Homo sapiens: one gene and its partner. The protein of the gene in region 1 interacts with the protein of each later gene in a biochemical or structural test. Each region holds a gene or a part of one and is shown in the gene's direction. Other genes may lie near its edges. The genes, in order: AIFM1 and XIAP.

What was found.
Region 2: of the proteins of AIFM1 (region 1) and XIAP, one has a biochemical effect on the other in vitro, tested with the Homo sapiens proteins (one study listed by BioGRID).

Annotation. Positions count from the first base shown.
Region 1 is NC_000023.11:130,134,523-130,138,341, reverse strand, and holds part of AIFM1 (apoptosis-inducing factor 1, mitochondrial isoform AIF precursor), read left to right. Parts: intron 1-301; exon of another isoform or gene 302-816; coding exon of another isoform or gene 817-824; exon of another isoform or gene 825-1,156; coding exon 1,157-1,264; intron 1,265-1,610; coding exon 1,611-1,699; intron 1,700-2,156; coding exon 2,157-2,297; intron 2,298-3,819. UniProt on the Homo sapiens protein: Functions both as NADH oxidoreductase and as regulator of apoptosis.
Region 2 is NC_000023.11:123,908,234-123,912,052, forward strand, and holds part of XIAP (E3 ubiquitin-protein ligase XIAP), read left to right. Parts: 3' UTR 1-3,819.

The DNA of each region.
Region 1 (3,819 bases):
AGGCGCCTGTAACCACGCCTGGCTAATTTTTTGTATTTTTAGTAGAGATGGGGTTTCACCGTGTTAGCCAGGACTGTCTCGATCTCCTGACCTGGTGATCCGCCCACCTTGGCCTCCCAAAGTGCTGGGATTACAGGCGTGAGCCACCACACCCAGCCTAATTAAGGTTTATATAGTGAAAAGCTAAACACTGAGATTAGTTCTGGTGAGGGATCCCTTGGTGACCAAAAAGCTGTCACCTGAGCAACTTAACAGCGATGCTTTTTTTTTTTTTTTTTTGAGATGGAGTTTCACTCTTGTTGCCCAGGCTGGAGTGCAATGGTGTGATCTCTGCTCACCACAACCTCCGCCTCCCAGGTTCAAGCGATTCTCCTGTCTCAGCCTCTGGAGTAGCTGGGATTACAGGCATGCACCACCACACCTGGCTAATTTTGTATTTTTGGTAGAGACAGGGTTTCTCCATGTTGGTCAGGCTGGTCTTGAACTCCCAACCTCAGGTGATCCACCCACCTCGGCCACCCAAAGTGCTGGGATTATAGGTGTGAGTCACTGCACCTGGCCAACAGCAATACTTTCTTTCCTTTCTTTTCCTCTACCCTCTATGCCAGGACTCCTTAGAAATAAAATATTAAGGAAAGTGAGTTATGAAGATGATAAGGGCAATGCAGACTACAGAATTATGGGTGTCTTTGAACTGCTGCTTCCTGTAAAATGCCAAAAACTTCTTTGGGCACATGATGGTTCCCAGCTTGAGAGATCTGTGAGCTCCAGTTGGAATGTTTCATGGCAACTAGTTTTCTTAATGTTCTTTTTCAGATATATGAAATCAGGGCATCTTTTCAGGAGGATGCTTCCTATTCAGAGGTTGCAAAGCACTTATGTAAGCCTTAGGTGACTGCATGGGTGGAAGTGCACAGAGTTCACCATCTGAAGCTTAATCTGGGGCCAGCAGTTCTGATACCTGTTGTATTTGCGTTACAAATGAACTTGAGCACCGAGGCCCTCATGCCCACTGTCCTGTAAGTGGGCGCTCGGCCTGGATTGCAGCTCTGCCCTGTCTGTAGTGAGGGCTGCCTGCTGCTCCTTTACTTCTCTTCCTGTATTCCTAGGATTGACTTTTGCTTCCTGCTGTAACTACTCTGTTTCTTCTTCCCAGCTCGAGCCTTGGGCACAGAAGTGATTCAACTCTTCCCCGAGAAAGGAAATATGGGAAAGATCCTCCCCGAATACCTCAGCAACTGGACCATGGAAAAAGTCAGACGAGGTAGAGAGACTGTTTCTATATGCTGCCACTCTATTTCCTTTGAGTGTGACCTAAGGCAAACTTCGCTTCTATAGGAACCCCCTTGACATAAGCCCTATCACCTGGCCTGTAAAATGTTTCCACCATTCTCCAGTCAGCTAAGTTCATCTAGGTGTTCTGAATCAGATGCCCCAAATTCCTGGAAGTGCTGAAAATGAACCATGGGTGTAGGTTCTTGCAGCTCTCCAAAACTGCCTGTGTACTGATAATTGGTTTTACCGTGGAGGAGACCGCTGGTCAGCTTTCCTACTTCCCATGAAAGTGATAGCCTTGTAGGCTCACTCTCAGGTCTTGTTTGCCTTTACAGAGGGGGTTAAGGTGATGCCCAATGCTATTGTGCAATCCGTTGGAGTCAGCAGTGGCAAGTTACTTATCAAGCTGAAAGACGGCAGGAAGGTAAGGAAGGAAAAGATAGTCTGCCAAGAGGCCTTCCAGTTCTCCACTCCCCTTGCCTCATTTTTACTCCTTCATTTGACACCAGTAGATTAGTTTTCCTGGCAGTTGCCATTAACCTGATATAATTTTCCGAATTAACCATCCCTCCATTAAAACAGAATGATGAGAGCCAGAGTAGGCTCCTGTGAACCACTTTCCCTTAGCCCCATTCTATCTGTCTCACAGAGTTTTGAGTCCTGGCTAGGGTGGCAGATTTCTGTTCGAATGACATGGGGGATGTGCATGGGATGGGGTGGTGGAGGCTTATGAAATAGAACTTAAAATCCATTTATCAGAGGTAAGTTAACCCATGATTTTTTAAAGTCCCAATTCTTAATGGCATGAAGGGCCATTGTTACGCCTGTAGGCATAAATGGAAACTGTGGTAATTGACTGAATTATTTCTTTTTTGCCTCAGGTAGAAACTGACCACATAGTGGCAGCTGTGGGCCTGGAGCCCAATGTTGAGTTGGCCAAGACTGGTGGCCTGGAAATAGACTCAGATTTTGGTGGCTTCCGGGTAAATGCAGAGCTACAAGCACGCTCTAACATCTGGGTGGTAAGTGTGCTACAGCATGACCAGGCATAATTCATTCTCCCTAGCCTGTGAACAAGTCTGCCCGGTGGTGTGCTAAAGCTCATCAACAGCCTAACCAAATAGGGTCAGAGTGTTTGGAGGCTGAGGGTACAGAATAGAAATGTGTGAACTGCTTGATTCAGAAGACCAGGTATGGCCTCATCTGCAAGCTAGTGGCAGATGAAATGAACAGTGTGCATGCCTGCAGGGGTAGAGCTCTTCCGGTTCTACTTATTGGCAGCAGCTACTGGCATAACCCCTGGTGGGCATGCACATAAGCCTTCAGATGGATCTGCTGTTCCCTTTGCTCAAACTTGAATCCGGAGGATGGAGGATGAAGCAATGTTATAACCTGTTCCCTAGAAAGGAAAATTACTCTGTTTTCATTTTCCTTGAGTACTATTTTTAGCTGTTTTTTACAATCTATTATGACATAAACAAGACTATAGTATGTAGGAACCATGAGGTAATTTCCCCATTGCTAGTTACAAGTGTATTGTGTTTGTTTATGGACTCTGCAACTAAGGACGTAGGTACCTTGGAGGAATTTTTTTCCCCCTCCAAACCTTGTTTTTTTTTTTTTTTTTAAAAAAAAAAAGATGTACTGGATCTTTTTAACCTGTTATAAAAGTAATACGTGGGCCAGGAGAAGTGGCTTACACCTGTAATCCCAGCACTTTGGGAGGCTGAGGCAGGTGGATCACTTGAGATCAGGAGTTTGAGACCAGCCTGGCTAACATGGTGAAACCCTGTCTCTCCTAAAAATACAAAAATTAGCCGGGTGTGGTGGCACAGGCCTGTAATCCCAGCTACTTGGGAGGCTGAGTGAGGCAGGAGAATCACTTGAACTAAGGAGGCAGAGGCTGCAGTGAGTGGAGATCATGCCACTGCCCTCCAGCCTGGGCAACAACAGAGCAAGACTCAGTCTCAAAAAAAAAAAAAAAGTAATATGTGGTCAATGTAGAAGACAGACAAGAAGGAGAGAGGAGAGGAAAGTCACCTGCAGCAACCATTAATATTTTGGTGTATTTCCTTCCCTGTGTTTCCTTGCATGTAGGTTTTATTGTTGGTTTGTTTTATTCGTGGCAAGCATACTATATATAATATTCTGCTCTTTTCCACTTAACACCATAAATGTAAGCATTTTCTATGTTGCTTCAGACTTTGTAAACAGTTTAATGACTATATATTCCATTAAGCGAATTTCACAGTTTACGGTTGCTCACTCGTTGGATTTTTAGGTTGCTTTGGGGGAGTCTAAATAGCCACAAAGATGAACAAAGGGTTAGAGAGCTCAAATGCCACATCCTTCATGAAGCTGGTCCAGTTCACCCCCGGCTGGAGGTTCTCGCCCTCTGCTTGAAATACTTGACTCCTTTAATCTGTACCTCTCATATGGCACACTACTGTTTACATTGCTCTGTAGTTGTGAGCAAGGCTGTATCTTTCTGTACTAGGTTGTATGCTCCTCATAGTCAAGGTCCATGTCAGTTTTGTCTCAGCA
Region 2 (3,819 bases), 6.2 Mb from region 1:
TTGTGGATGAAAAATATTTCTGAGTGGTAGTTTTTTGACAGGTAGACCATGTCTTATCTTGTTTCAAAATAAGTATTTCTGATTTTGTAAAATGAAATATAAAATATGTCTCAGATCTTCCAATTAATTAGTAAGGATTCATCCTTAATCCTTGCTAGTTTAAGCCTGCCTAAGTCACTTTACTAAAAGATCTTTGTTAACTCAGTATTTTAAACATCTGTCAGCTTATGTAGGTAAAAGTAGAAGCATGTTTGTACACTGCTTGTAGTTATAGTGACAGCTTTCCATGTTGAGATTCTCATATCATCTTGTATCTTAAAGTTTCATGTGAGTTTTTACCGTTAGGATGATTAAGATGTATATAGGACAAAATGTTAAGTCTTTCCTCTACCTACATTTGTTTTCTTGGCTAGTAATAGTAGTAGATACTTCTGAAATAAATGTTCTCTCAAGATCCTTAAAACCTCTTGGAAATTATAAAAATATTGGCAAGAAAAGAAGAATAGTTGTTTAAATATTTTTTAAAAAACACTTGAATAAGAATCAGTAGGGTATAAACTAGAAGTTTAAAAATGCTTCATAGAACGTCCAGGGTTTACATTACAAGATTCTCACAACAAACCTATTGTAGAGGTGAGTAAGGCATGTTACTACAGAGGAAAGTTTGAGAGTAAAACTGTAAAAAATTATATTTTTGTTGTACTTTCTAAGAGAAAGAGTATTGTTATGTTCTCCTAACTTCTGTTGATTACTACTTTAAGTGATATTCATTTAAAACATTGCAAATTTATTTTATTTATTTAATTTTCTTTTTGAGATGGAGTCTTGCTTGTCACCCAGGCTGGAGTGCAGTGGAGTGATCTCTGCTCACTGCAACCTCCGCCTTCTGGGTTCAAGCGATTCTCGTGCCTCAGCTTCCTGAGTAGCTGGAATTACAGGCAGGTGCCACCATGCCCGACTAATTTTTTTTTATTTTTAGTAGAGACGGGGTTTCACCATGTTGGCCAGGCTGGTATCAAACTCCTGACCTCAAGAGATCCACTCGCCTTGCCCTCCCAAAGTGCTGGGATTACAGGCTTGAGCCACCACGCCCGGCTAAAACATTGCAAATTTAAATGAGAGTTTTAAAAATTAAATAATGACTGCCCTGTTTCTGTTTTAGTATGTAAATCCTCAGTTCTTCACCTTTGCACTGTCTGCCACTTAGTTTGGTTATATAGTCATTAACTTGAATTTGGTCTGTATAGTCTAGACTTTAAATTTAAAGTTTTCTACAAGGGGAGAAAAGTGTTAAAATTTTTAAAATATGTTTTCCAGGACACTTCACTTCCAAGTCAGGTAGGTAGTTCAATCTAGTTGTTAGCCAAGGACTCAAGGACTGAATTGTTTTAACATAAGGCTTTTCCTGTTCTGGGAGCCGCACTTCATTAAAATTCTTCTAAAACTTGTATGTTTAGAGTTAAGCAAGACTTTTTTTCTTCCTCTCCATGAGTTGTGAAATTTAATGCACAACGCTGATGTGGCTAACAAGTTTATTTTAAGAATTGTTTAGAAATGCTGTTGCTTCAGGTTCTTAAAATCACTCAGCACTCCAACTTCTAATCAAATTTTTGGAGACTTAACAGCATTTGTCTGTGTTTGAACTATAAAAAGCACCGGATCTTTTCCATCTAATTCCGCAAAAATTGATCATTTGCAAAGTCAAAACTATAGCCATATCCAAATCTTTTCCCCCTCCCAAGAGTTCTCAGTGTCTACATGTAGACTATTCCTTTTCTGTATAAAGTTCACTCTAGGATTTCAAGTCACCACTTATTTTACATTTTAGTCATGCAAAGATTCAAGTAGTTTTGCAATAAGTACTTATCTTTATTTGTAATAATTTAGTCTGCTGATCAAAAGCATTGTCTTAATTTTTGAGAACTGGTTTTAGCATTTACAAACTAAATTCCAGTTAATTAATTAATAGCTTTATATTGCCTTTCCTGCTACATTTGGTTTTTTCCCCTGTCCCTTTGATTACGGGCTAAGGTAGGGTAGAGTGGGTGTAGTGAGTGTATATAATGTGATTTGGCCCTGTGTATTATGATATTTTGTTATTTTTGTTGTTATATTATTTACATTTCAGTAGTTGTTTTTTGTGTTTCCATTTTAGTGGATAAAATTTGTATTTTGAACTATGAATGGAGACTACCGCCCCAGCATTAGTTTCACATGATATACCCTTTAAACCCGAATCATTGTTTTATTTCCTGATTACACAGGTGTTGAATGGGGAAAGGGGCTAGTATATCAGTAGGATATACTATGGGATGTATATATATCATTGCTGTTAGAGAAATGAAATAAAATGGGGCTGGGCTCAGTGGCTCACGCCTGTAATCCCAGCACTTTGGGAGGCTGAGGCAGGTGGATCACGAGGTCAGGAGATCGAGACCATCCTGGCTAACACGGTGAAACCCCGTCTCTACTAAAAAACAGAAAATTAGCCGGGCGTGGTGGCGGGCGCCTGTAGTCCCAGCTACTCGGGAGGCTGAGGCAGGAGAATGGTGTGAACCCGGGAGGCAGAGCTTGCAGTGAGCCGAGATCTCGCCACTGCACTCCAGCCTGGGCAACAGAGCAAGACTCTGTCTCAAAAAAAAAAAAAAAAGAAATAAGAAAATGGGAAGCAATATTTGACATAGTTCTTTTTAGTCAAATCTACTTGTTAAAAAAAGGGTAGCAGTTTATTCATCTGTGAAAGGAAAATAATACTTATCTTACAAGGTTGCAAGAGCTCAAGGAGACCATGTATGTAAAGTTCCTGCTGTAAATATGAACTCCCATCCTAATACCCTTTTACCTCTCTGTGGGTTTGTCTTGACCTGGAAATTTGGGCTAAAACTTAGAAAAAATTCTTACATGATAACTCAGTGATGCTTACTCATAGTTTTTGGTGTTTCTCATAGATAAGATATAAATCAGCTGGGCGCGGTGGCTCATGCCTGTAATCCCAGCACTTTGGGAGGCCGAGGCGGGCAGATCACCTGAGGTCGGGAGGTCGAGACCAGCCTGACCAACATGGAGAAACCCCGTCTCTACTAAAAATACAAAATTAGCTGGGCGTGGTGGCTCATGCCTGTAATCCCAGCTACTTGGGAGGCTGAGGCAGGAGAATCGCTTGAACCCAGGAGGCGGAGGTTGTGGTGAGCGAAGATCGTGCCATTGCACTCCAGCCTGGGCAACAAGAGCAAAACTCTGTCTCAAAAAAAAAAAAAGATATAAATCACAATAAATAAATAGGTCAATACAAATGTTAGCCAGGCGTGGTGGCACATGCCCATAGTCGCAGCTACTCTGGAGGCAGAGGCAGGAGGATCACTTGAGCCCATGAATTTGAGGCAGCAGTGAGCTATGATTGTGCCACTGTACTCCAGTCTGGGTGACAGAGTGAGACCCCATCTCTAAATAAATAGGTCAAACCCTTAAAAATATTTAAATTCTTAAAAAATTGAAAAGATTATTCTTCTCAAATTTAGTTGAGCTTTCTAAGAGAAGCAATTGGCTTTTTCCCACTTCAATAATCATTTTCAGTTTGACTCATACAGTTAACACAATGTGAATTTCTTCCTCAGCATAACAGAGTTATAGAATGACAGGGCTGGAAGTGACCTTAGAGAGTATCCAGTTCTTTCATTTTACAGGTGAGGCAACTGAGACTCAAAGGTGATGTAATTTGTGCAAAGATTATAGCTAATTAGTAGCAGAGCCCTGACTGGGACATAGTTTGAAGGTGAAAAACTTCACCAAGCTACCTTTCTTGAAAGGTCCAAATGTTTA